2 linked regions of the Homo sapiens genome follow. The protein of the gene in region 2 interacts with the protein of the main gene of each other region in a pairwise test. Each region holds a gene or a part of one and is shown on either strand. Other genes may lie near its edges.

Region 1 (4,860 bases), on a different chromosome or scaffold from region 2:
TAGAGCAGATCCATAAAAAGGTATGACTTATACAATTAGGGGAAGCTAATGGAGTTTATTAGCTGAGTATCAATGTCTCTGCGTTGTACGGTGGTGATGGGTTTTAATGAATATGGACCCTGAAGCCTGGAAATCCTCATCCACGTCGAACCCACAGGACTGTGGGAAGGGCAGAATCAATCCCTAAGGGAAAGGAAACCTCACCCTGAGGGCATCACATGCACTCATGTTCAGTGTACACAGGTCAAGTCCCTTGCTCTGGGCTCTAGTTGGGAGAGTGGTTTCATTCCAAGTGTACTCCATTGTCAGTATGCTGTTTTTGTTTCCTTCACTCCATTCAAAAAGTCAAAATACAAAATTTGGCACAGCATGCCAACGGGAGGCTGTGCCCAGACCAAGCACTGGAAGTGTGCTTCTAGGCATAGTCATTGGTTTTGCAAAAAGAGGGCTCAAATTTAAATAGAAATTTACAGCTATTTGAATGGTCAGATATACCAAGAAAGAAAAATATTTCTGTTCCTCAAGAAAACTTGCTACCCTCTGTGAGGGGAATTTTGCTAAACTTGACATCTTTATAACATGAGCCAGATTGAAAGGGAGTGATTTTCATTCATCTTAGGTCATGTTATTTCATATTTGTTTCTGAAGGTGCGATAGCTCTGTTTTAGGTTTTGCTTGCGCCTGTTAATTACTGGAACACCTTATTTTTCATTAAAGGCTTTGAAAGCCAATTCTCAAAAATTCAAAAGTGCAAATTAACAGAACAAAAGGAAATCCAGTAGCAACTGCAGTCAAGCGAGGGAGTTGACAAGATAAACCTTACGTCCATTCAAGTTATATGCTGGCCTATGAGAGATGAGAGTTGGGTCGTTTGTTCTCTTTGTTGATGATTTTAAAAAAACCCTCTAGAATACACATAATAACATAATGAAAGCCATATCTCCATGATATATATGTGCACATATATATACATACATGTGCATGTATGTATCATATTAAGGACCCATGGTACTCTTAAAACACTGTAGAACTCTGTGACGCAGTAAGGAAGGGGCAGATTTGTACAAAAACTTTTCTAGATTCCATCAGCAAAAACCAACACAGGTTTGTCACGCTGCATGTCTGGCCAGCTAATCTCGGGGGAAAAGCTACAAGTTATTTATTTTATTTTAAGAGAATAAAGTAGGTAATAATTTAAGGGATCAAATTCAAGGAGGAATGTGCAATTTTAGAGCAAAGATTTGTTTAAGGCAAATGAGACTTTGGGAGCATCCCATTCCAGTTTTGTCTTTTTTTTCTCTGAAAGAAAAAAGCAAAAAATAAAATAAAATTCCACTTATACCTTCTGACAAGTCCCTAAAGGTCTTGAAATAAAAGGTTCTATGCAAGTGCAAAGTTTTATAGTTATTTTTATTGCTGATTATTACTATTACTATCTCTGTTGTCTTAAGAGTATGTGCTGATTTCAGAGACATCTCAAATTGAAAGAATATCAGATTGCTTTTAAAGTAGCTGAACGAGCCACAGAATATCTGAAATTATTCATTGTTGTTCCTCCACCACCCCCTTTCTCATGGTCTGATTTTTAGAAGAGTGGCATCCTCGTTCTAAAATGTAATGATCACCAAATACGGCCTTCCATCAAATTTGTGAAAACTACAACAGTATAACAGTGACAAACCTAATTCTCTAGCCCAAACCTGGTCTGACAATCATTTCCATTTAGAAGTCATTGAATAGTTTTCCAAACACTTTCCATGTGTGTTAGCAAATTATTCCTATTTTGTGTAGATGAGGACGTTGAGACTCAGAGACATTCAGAGGCACGCTAGAGGTCTCCAGCCTAGCTTCCAGCACCATTGGGACTGAATCCAAGTACTCTCACTCTGAACTTCGTGGTTCTGTCCACTAGAGACTCTAATATGCAAACAAGCAGTTCAGGAAAGAAAGCATGCTAACACATTCATGAAGCAGTATATGAAGTTAGAAGAACAAAAGGAAATACAGGAGATGACAAGCAACTGAGATATTGTGATATATAATCATGCTCTTAGCTTCAGCTAAATTCAGCTAAATTCTTGTACACTGAACCAATGTCATAATCAGGCTTATTTAGAAAACACTTTGAACTATGCTATAAAAGATTATATCAGAATTCATATTATACATGTGTTCACATCAGCGCTACCTGTGATGTTTTCATGTATTTATGTATGTGTTATAAATACTTGATTTATACATATACAAATGCACATACGTAGTGTGTTTGTGTGTTTATGTATAAATTTATAGGCACACAATAATAGAGGTAATTATAAGTAGGATGCGGTATGAATAATTTGCTTAAAATATGCTAAATAACCAAAACTGTTTAACGTCATGTTGCTGTTAGTGCTTCCATACTCCACGTGGGTAGGACTACATCACACTTTTCAACTCTGTGCAGTACTGCATGGGTGGAAGACATATTTAAGATAATGTGCTTCCCAAAACAACTGAATAAAAGCCATCCCACTACATTGAGTGCTTTCTCTGGCTCCTTGCAAAGAAAGATACTTTTTGTAATGGTCCAGGAAAGGAACATTGCTTTCTTTTTGTCTTTCAGCACATTTGTATTATGCTCACCTTGTCTCTGTCTCACTGTGACCCCTTTACACTTGAGTTCAGAGTTCAAGCATTCCAAATATAAATTGGAATGTTGGCAGCCCAGTGGCTTGAAGGCCAATGATGAGCAGTCCAAGACCCCACAGCGAGATGAGCAACTCTTAGGAATTCCCACATCCTAGAGTGAATGCACCAACTAACAGTATAGAATGCTGTCCTTTTCAAAGCGTCCTAACAGCAGGATTACCTGGTCAAGTATGGACTTTCTTTGAATCTTTCTTTTCACAAATTGGACTGCCTGTAATACCAATAACATTGTTGTATCTAACTAAATAAATGACTGCATATACACACATACCCTCAATTCTCTTGCTTCCCCATTTTCTTTTTCATCCCCTGTCTCAGGACTTTTATTTTCAATGTTGACCTTTGGTTTGGCCATATATCACTGTTATAGGAAATCTCATGAGAGGAATGGCTAGTGACCCAACTCTCCAAATGTCTAAGTTAGTAGTTACAGCTGATTTTTTATGATGCATAATTGGAATGTGGAGCCTCTGAGGTTGTGATAGCTTGTACATGAATTTCAAATGTCATTCTAAAGAATGAGGGGTGGGAGGGATTTATAGTTAGAAACGACAGTGCAGGAAGGGGTATTTTCTTGTTGTCAGGGCTGGAATGAATCACTGCTGCTCAAGTCAAAGGTTCTTGAATATCCTTAGTTTTTGCATTTCCCCTCCTTTTCCTTTGACCTTTATTTATTTAATTATGTATTTATTTATTTATTTATATACTTTTGCTCCATTCAGCACAAACACAAAGCAAAGCAAAAAAAAAAATATATATATATATATCTGTATATGTGTTGTAGGCAAAACACTGTGAATTTCACAACAACCACCACCAAGCAACTATTTTGCCATCTTAACATACATCTCAGGAGACGAAATGAGAAAAGATGGGGATGTCATTTTTTAGTCTATGCGTTTGAGGCCAGGTCCATGTTTATTTATTTCTTTAGTCTATGCATTAATGAAAATGATCCTGAGTGGAGGTTAGCTGAACGTTCAATGTACTGGAGCAAGCATCATAAAAGCTGCTAGTAGCCATGTGTTTGAACAGGAAAAATATTACAGAAAATGAAATGTAAAGGCCTATATCTTGCAGCTTGTATATCTTACTATTGCTTAAAAAATGTATAAAGCAGCTGGAAATGTTTTAAATACAAGGTCTTTGAATTAAATGTGGATTTTAAATATGTAATCCCTTGACAAATGACCAAATTATGGTGAACTATTGCTCCCTGCGTTCTTTGATCATTACCTATGACTTACAAATCTGCCTGGAGATGTGGACATTCTGCATTTGCTTCTGTATCTGGAGAGATGTTTGTATATATCCAGGCCGTATACACACACATTTCCATATCTCTCTACAGATATATTTCCCCTTCAATCGTGACCTGGTATTTGGAACTCTCCTTTTCATTTGGCTTATCTTCCTTTTAATGTGATGTCTCTGTGCTAATACTTACCAGTTCTTGTTTTGCAATCTGTTTTGAGGTCCATTGCTTTACTAAGACCCACTGCATCTTGGCTGATTTCAAAGTGACACCTGAATACAGTGTTTAAAAAAAAAAAAGTTTTGTTTGTAAATCATGTGACCAGCTTCTCTCAACCTGACATGGAAAGTCTCTTGTACTACAGTGTATTTAATAAAAATGATGTCTTACAATAAATAACATACTCCAAAAGAGAGACTAAAAATGACATGATGATTAATTTTTAAAAATGTATAGAATTTCCACAAGCATGGTGTTCTCTTTATTCTATATGTATATATGTCTGTGTTTGGTTTTGGTTTTGTTTAAAGACAGGTTCTTGTAATGTTGCCCAGGCTGGAGTGCACTGGCTATTCACAAGCATGATCATAGCTCACTGCAGACTCAAACCCCTGGGCTCAAGCCATCCTCCTGCCTTAGCCTTCTGACTCCCTGGGCTCAAGCCATCCTCCTGCCTTAGCCTTCTGACTCCCTGGGACTATAGGTGCACACCACTGCACCCAGCTATATGTATGTATTTTTAGATAGGATCACTGTAGATGCCTGTAGTGCTCATTAGTTGAAGGTAGTGAGAGTAAGTGGTTAGTCATAGAAATAAGTTTCCTGTCTGATCTATCCATAATTCTGATATTTTCAACTTACACCTTAGATAACTAGAACATCACTGTCAATTGCTTTACTTTCTGAAACAATAT
Region 2 (7,691 bases):
TGGCAGGTGCCTGTAATCCCAGCTACTCGGGAGGCTAAGGCAGGAGAATCTCTTGAACCCAGGAGGCGAAGTTTGTGGTAAGCCAAGAACATGCCACTGCACTCCATCCAGCCTGGGCGATAGAGTGAGACTCCATCTCAAAAATAAAAAAAATAAAAAAATAAATCATACGTAATTCACATTTCAATGATCATAAATAAGACTTTATTGGAACACAGTCTTGCCACTTTGGCATTGTTTATGGCTGTGTTCACAATACAATGGCAAAGTGGAGTAGCTGCAACAGAGCTTATGGTTCACAAAGCCTAAAATATTTCTATCTATTCCTTAACATTAAAAGTTTGCTAAGTTCTAAGATTTTGTTCTAAACTAAGTTCTAAGCTTTTGTACAATTATACTCATGAGTTTGTGAAAGTTGTAAGAATCAAAATGGAGTCACTTATTCTATACCCCGACAAATAGGAGTCGGGAGGCCATAAAGGAGGGGCTCTCATGCACACATGTCTACGTTAAAATCTATTTTTAGGTTACACTTTCTGAAAACCACAACCTTGAACAAGGCCACCACAACTTTACACAAAGACGTCTGCCTAGGAACTGTCTGTTCAGCCTTGGAGTGATACCACCCTTGTTATTGATCCTTGTAGCCAAGGTTAATAGTTTCAAAACAACTTATGTAACCTTGCTCATTTTGCCTTTAAAACCTTTGCCTTCCTTTCCCTCTCTGGGTACATCCATGGCCCTTCATGAGGTGCATACATATCCCAGATTGCAATCTTGAGGATTCACAAATAAACTCACTGTCTTTGGAGAATCTCTCTGTTGTTATTTCAGGTTGACAACTTTCTCTCTTCCCATGACAGCAAAGCCCTTTTATTTCTTTCTGTTTTTTTTTTTTAGATGAAGTTTCACTCTTGTTGCCCAGGCTGGAGTGCAATGGCGCGATCTCGGCTCACTGCAACCTCCGCCTCTCAGGTTCAAGTGATTCTCCTGCCTTAGCCTCCCAAGTAGCTGGGATTACAGGCATGTACCACCACGCCCGGCTAAGTTTTTTGTATTTTTAGTAGAGATGGGGTTTCTCCATGATGGTCAGGCTGGTCTCCAACTCCCAACCTCAGGTGATCCTCCCGCCTCGGCCTCCCAAAGTGCTGGGATTACAGGCGTGAGCCACCACACCTGGCCAACAAAGCCCTTTTCTCGTTCAAAACCCTTTCTTCCCAATCCTTACCTGATTATCCCAGCTGGCCACATAATTCTCTTCACTATCTCTCAGCATTAGTTAATATAGCTCAACACAGTTGTAAATAACTTGTAAGTTTTATATTTTAAAAATGTCTCAAATAAGTGTTTACTATCATCTCTATTTCATCATGAAGACTCCAAAGGTTAGAACTTTCTATCTCCTGTCTATTTATGTCCCGTATTTCTCTCCACACCCAAAGCAGTGCATACATTTTGGAGCCAGACAAATCCCAGTTTGCGTTTCGACTCCACCGCTCACAAAGCTGAGTAGGTTATGTAAATTTCCTGAGTCTCTTCAAGAATCTGCAGAATGGGTTTGTTATGAAGATTAAGCAGATGATGTACCATCAGGTCCAAGATTCTGGAAGTGCTCCATAACAGTAGTAATTATCAGTGGATAATTTCTTTATTTGTAATATGAAGATATTACCTTTTGCTCTTAATGAACCTTGTGGTAATGTAGTGAGAATTAAAAGAAGTAGTAAGTCATAGAAATAAAACTTCATGGTTTAATTGGAGCCCTGTGAAGACTAGCTGGAGAAGTTCAAGGCCTCAAATGAGATATTAGACTAATGAGGCTTTTGTCTAAATTTAACACATTTAACAAACCCTTCTTGGTTACTTACTGAGCTCTGCACTACCTAGGTCAAGCCTCATGTGGATATGAAAGACAGAAGGTCACATTTATCCTAGAGATTTGTATCTATATTGCAGGGGGAAAGGGATACGGACATGAGTTATGCTTATACTTGTCCATGTTTCTTTTCTCTCTCAGGAGGGATGATTCAGAGTCAGCAATTCACATATGCAGTACTGCACATGGAAAGTATTACTGTTATTCTGTGGGGAAATAAGTTTCTAAGTGCAGCAATCTGAAATTAATAACTTTCTCTGTGGAAACTCTCTTGACAACATCTCGAGATGAAGCCAAAGAGCACAATTTTTATGGCTTTGGATTATCTTCTCTGTCTGCTTGGCTTGCACCAGGCATGGATCTGTGAGCCAGAAATTCAGTTTTCCCCTTCGTTGTACAATTTGCCTGCCAGCTGGAGGCCTAATATAGCAGTGACTCAATTTCTCAATTCTCCAATTTATCCACCCATCAAATCAAGGCAAATAATCTCAATTTACTTATTAGAGGCTTTGGGGAACTCAAGAAAAAAAAGACCAAAATCTTTACCGTGACTACAAAACATTTTGGTTGAGGACATAGGAAAAGGAGATTAGAAGTTGGAGATCAATTTTCTTTTACTTTCAATGCAAAATATTTCTATGATAAAGCCTGTTATTTATATTATGATAAATATTTGTGTCCACATGCAGGGAGTATATAGATATTGAGGGAGAAAGTAATTTAGGAAAGAAATAGAAGGGTAGCAACATCTTTTCCACAAAAGCCACAGCACTGCAGACATGCATAAAGATTGCAGTTGTTGCTCCAATAGCCTTATGTGGTAGGCCGACAAATTCTTTTTTCTTTTTCTTTTTTTTTTTCAGAGATTGTGTCTCACTATGTTGCCCAGGTTGGTCTCGAACTCCTGGCTCCTGGGCTCACGTGATCCTCGAGTCTCAGGCTCTCAAAGTGCTGAGATTACAGATGTGAGCCACTGTGCCCAGTGGACATTCTTTTTTATTCTTTCTTACACGTAAATGTAGACAATCTGGACAAAGAAGTCTGGATTTCTACTTTCCACTGCTGACATTTTAAAAAATTTCAAATTAGATTTTTGCACCCTTTATACAAGACTACATGGCAGGACATTATGTTTGATTCACTGTACCTGATTACATTTAAATGTTGTTTTTCTGGATTATAAACAACAACTGAGGGACAGAGTAAGGAGGCTCTAAATAGACTTGAGAGCTTGGAATGTTGCTACATTTGTTCGCTCTCCCAGCATGTTAATATGTGAGACTAATACTTGGAAATAGCGACAGATATAGAGGAGTTTGGATGCTGAGAGAGAACTCAAAGTGAAGATGGTAAACATCTAGAGTTTTTATTGATTACAATTTTCTCATATATACAGAAACCTCAGGGTGTGTTCTAAACACAGTTCTCTTTTAAAATACATAATTAACTAAACTTCAAAATTAGAAGCTAAGACAATAATCATATTAATATAACCTCTACACTGCCAACTTGGAAAGGCAATGAAGAAGAAATGGGAATTGCAACAAGCTTCAGAGATGGAAGATTTTGTTTTTCTCTGTAGGACATGTGGGTAGAAGCAATTGCAGATGGCTGGGTGTGAAAGAAACAGACCTTGCAAGCCTGCTATATAGCTATACTGTGCTACATGGCATTGGGAGGTAATAAGATTTAAAAGACAAATACTCTTGTCTTCACAAAGCTTATAATTTAGTTGTGCAATACTGGGTAAGAAAGCTGGCTTAATGGAGTTGTATTCCAGCTTCACCCCTTAGTAGCTCTGTGTCATTGGGTGAGATATTTAATTTCTTTGGGCATAACTTCCTCATCTGTGAAACACTGATAATTGTATCTCCTATATGGCAGCTATGCCAGCCTCCTTTCTGTTCTTCCACAAGACAATCTCTCTCTGGACCGCCCTTTGCACCTGTTCCTGTGGTCGGGAAAGCCTTTAGCATGGCCAAACCCTTCAAGTTTTGACTTCATGTCACCGAGTCAGGGAGCTTTTTTGGAAAATATTGTTTCCGATTCCGCAGATGAGGCTGTTAAAATACTAAAGGATGGCATAAACATGAGGATGCTATTATAATCATCCACCCTAAGTAGGATTTGAGATCCAAGCAGTTCTCAAGGATTTAGGGTTAGCAAACTTTTTCTGTAAAATGTCAGATAGCAAGTATTATAGGGTTTGCAGGCCATACCAAACAAATGGGTGCTGCTGTGTTCCAATAAAACTTTATTTATGGACACTGAAACTTGAATTTCATGTACTTTTCACAGTCATGGTGGCAGACCGGATTTGGCCCCCTCCCTGTCGCTGGCTGACCCCTGGTTTATGAGTACGGCAGATAAAAGAAGGGAGTGAATAAGAACCACGATTCTGCTGCCAGACACGAGGGATCAGGTCGCTGCTGTGAAGATTGTCAACCTCTCTGGTTGCCAACGACCTCGAGAATGGGGTTGTGGTCCCTGCGTCAGGGCGGTTGTGCTGAAGGCTGGATGAGGGCACGTAGGTGAAGCTCAGTGCTTGGCACGAGGTGCTCATCAGCAGCATCGCCCTTGCTTTGGGCTGGCCTGTTAGTAATTCGTTTTTAGTGGAATCGAATACAACACTTGAGCCTCGGAGGCTCAGGTCGTCGGAGCAACTACACCAGGGCCGGTGCACCTCGGGGCGGCGGCGCAGGACTAGGCTAGGCCGGGCCGGGCCGGGCAGGGCGGCGCGAGTCGGGGGTGGGGCGGCGGCGCAGCGCCGTCGTCGTAGTCCCCGCCTCTTCCCCAGGGGCCGCGTCGGAGCCTCGGCGGCGGCGGCGGTGCTTACAGCCTGAGAAGAGCGTCTCGCCCGGGAGCGGCGGCGGCCATCGAGACCCACCCAAGGCGCGTCCCCCTCGGCCTCCCAGCGCTCCCAAGCCGCAGCGGCCGCGCCCCTTCAGCTAGCTCGCTCGCTCGCTCTGCTTCCCTGCTGCCGGCTGCGCCATGGCGTTGGCGTTGGCGGCGCTGGCGGCGGTCGAGCCGGCCTGCGGCAGCCGGTACCAGCAGGTAAGCGGCGCCCGACTCCAGCCCCGAACTCCGGTCCCTGGCTCTGCCCTGCCCGCTGGCCGCCTCAGGCCTCTCTGGCCGGCCCGCGGCCAACTCGACGCCGGGGCTTGGCAGGCCGCGCTGGGCCTGGAGGGGCGGGTCGGGCCCCGGGCTCGGATTCGAGGCTGCCACGGGCCCGGCCTGCCCGTCTGCGACCCCAGGTGGGACTCCGGCGGTGGAAAGTCCTCCTCCCGGCCTCGTTTCCCGCATTTCCCAGGGCGGGCGGGTCCCTGAGTCAGAACCCGCGACCCACAGGCGGCATCGATCTGAGGCATTCGTTTTTCATTTTTCCACCTTTGGTTTGATGTCATTGGAAAAGAAAGAAAGAAAAAAGCATGAAACGGAAACTGGGTGGAGAGAAAAGATTAAAATCTCTGCTGCTGCCGATAGCTCCCCACAGCAAGATGCTATTGCTCAGGGTTTCAGAGCCTAGTTTGTCGAAACCCATCCCCCTCGCCTCCGTTTTAAGACAAAAGTAAAAAATGAAGCAAGAGACAAGCCCGCAGTTTGCAGTAGATTTGGAAGAGGCGATGTTTGGCTGTGGTGATGCCCCAAAAGGGAGAGCTACGATGAAGTCTGCAGGGCGTGTGCCGGGTGTATTTTAAATGCTTGGAAGTGACGTTTTAAGAGATTTGATGGCATAGCTGGGGAGGAAATGTATAGGAAATGATTGGATCATTTTCTCGGGTTTGATTTAATACATTGAGGCCCCAGGGAAAAGAGCTGCTTGTTTCACTCCGCGTCTGTAGCTAAGTTCCCCCAGGAAATTTAGAGACCTTCTGCAGGGTTTTTGGAAGTGTTAATCTAACATACAGTAATGGTGGGAATTGAGCCAGGTGGTAAACTGATGTTGATTGGAACCGCAAATAACGGCTTGTGTTTGTCATGTTTCAGATGCTTTCGGTGCATACAGATGTCAATCCTCCTTTTATCAAATAAAATGTCCTATCTTAGACGATCTACAATTTTATATTTTAGAAGTAAGGAAAGCCAGCCAGTACGATGAAAACGTAGATTAACCCTGGTGCGGCCGGCCGGTTACTGGTTTGTTTTGCTATCATCAGCCATGTGTTGCAATCCGTCCCCACTCAGGCTTGGACTCCCAAAATGACTAGTTAAGAATTTCACTTCTTGGTTTTATAAACACGGCCCAAATTGTGGCAATGCAGTTAATCCTTAGATCTCTTCAGAGCACATGGATCTAGCACATGCTTTTTTTCTATGACCTTGGGCAGCCTGCGGGTTCCTTACTGCTTTAATAAAATGGGAATAACAGATGCCACTTAACTGTCACCACAGTGTTTGCAAATCACCCCTACTGTATACTGTCATCTGATTTCATCCTTTTCATCCTGACTTGGATAAGGCTAACGAGCAAAAGAGCTGTGGTTTTTCTTTGTACTGCCATCTTCTTGAGCTATTAGGTAATGCTGACATACTGCTAGAATATAAAAAATTTGCTGGAGTATCAAAATCATGTATTCCTTAGTGTGGCATTTAATATTTTTTAATTATGCAGAATTGAAGTATAAAAAAAAGAGAAAAAAATCTTCCTAGAAAAATTGTAAAAGATGAAAGCCCAAAAAACTGCAAAACCCTCCCTAAACAAAAACCAAATAGATAACCAAAGGTAATATTTTAATGTGCATTCTTGTGGGTTTATAGCTATGTAAATATACATAGTTATAGATCAGTATATGTGTGTACAGATAAGGAATGCAGGAAAGCTAATATTGATTTTTTTATGCAACAATCACAGTATTAAGTAATTTACATCCATTTTTTTTTTCTTTTAATTCATACCAAACCCTTATGAACCAGGGTTTGTTCTCATTGTCAAAGACTCAAAGTGGCTCAGTAACTTGCCTCAAGGTCACAGGCTGCTAAGTAGTGATTATAAGGATATACACACACTCACCTACTTAAAACACAGGCTCACAGTCCAGATATAGGTGTATGCATTAGCAGATATATACACATGCATATGTATTCTCTTATGTACCCATATATACGTATACAGACATATCTTTGTACATTTGTGTGCAGTTTTATGAGCCCCGATCATACTTGCACATACTTTTGCACGTGTCCATGTGTATCTTGTTCTCAGACATGTGCATTCATACATTTGCACATGTGTATCATGCACATGTATCTACAAAGGCATGCTAGATAAATAATGAAATAGGTTCATAATTCTATTTTGTAATGTTCTTCACACAATGTTATTAATGTCTTCTATATAAAATATTTTTAATGTCTGCATGGCATGTAATTGTATGGCTGAATCATAATTTAACTAATTGCTTATCTTTGGTCACTAAGAATGTTTACAGTTTTTTTCATTGAAATTTATTTCACATACGTCTTCAACCGTTTCCTTAGCATAAATTACTAGCCATGGAAATGCCTGGTCAGCGAATATGCATTTTTAAAAGGCTTTTGAATTATAGAATGATGGTGAATTGTCCAGGCAACTTGATAGGAGCATGATACTCTTTGGTTGTCACACAGGGCTGTTCTGACTTCTATTTGATCTGGTTAATCAAATTGAGCTAGTTTTCTCACCAAGTAAATGTAATGGAAAACTGTATGATTCATTCATAAATGCAAACACAGTTTTGTCTTTATGGTCTTTTTATTGGTAGTGTAATATGTGGACAACTTGAATTTAGCATAGTGACAGACTATGCAGAAAGGGTAGGCTCAACCAGGTGTGGTG

Evidence for each region.
Region 1: the proteins of NDFIP1 (region 2) and NTRK2 interact in a protein complementation assay, tested with the Homo sapiens proteins (one study listed by BioGRID).

The regions. Positions count from the first base shown.
Region 1 is NC_000009.12:85,022,698-85,027,557, forward strand, and holds the end of NTRK2 (BDNF/NT-3 growth factors receptor isoform a precursor), read left to right. Parts: 3' UTR 1-4,357; downstream 4,358-4,860. UniProt on the Homo sapiens protein: Receptor tyrosine kinase involved in the development and the maturation of the central and the peripheral nervous systems through regulation of neuron survival, proliferation, migration, differentiation, and synapse formation and plasticity.
Region 2 is NC_000005.10:142,104,108-142,111,798, forward strand, and holds the start of NDFIP1 (NEDD4 family-interacting protein 1), read left to right. Parts: upstream 1-4,671; 5' UTR 4,672-4,867; coding exon 4,868-4,930; intron 4,931-7,691. UniProt on the Homo sapiens protein: Activates HECT domain-containing E3 ubiquitin-protein ligases, including NEDD4 and ITCH, and consequently modulates the stability of their targets. As a result, controls many cellular processes.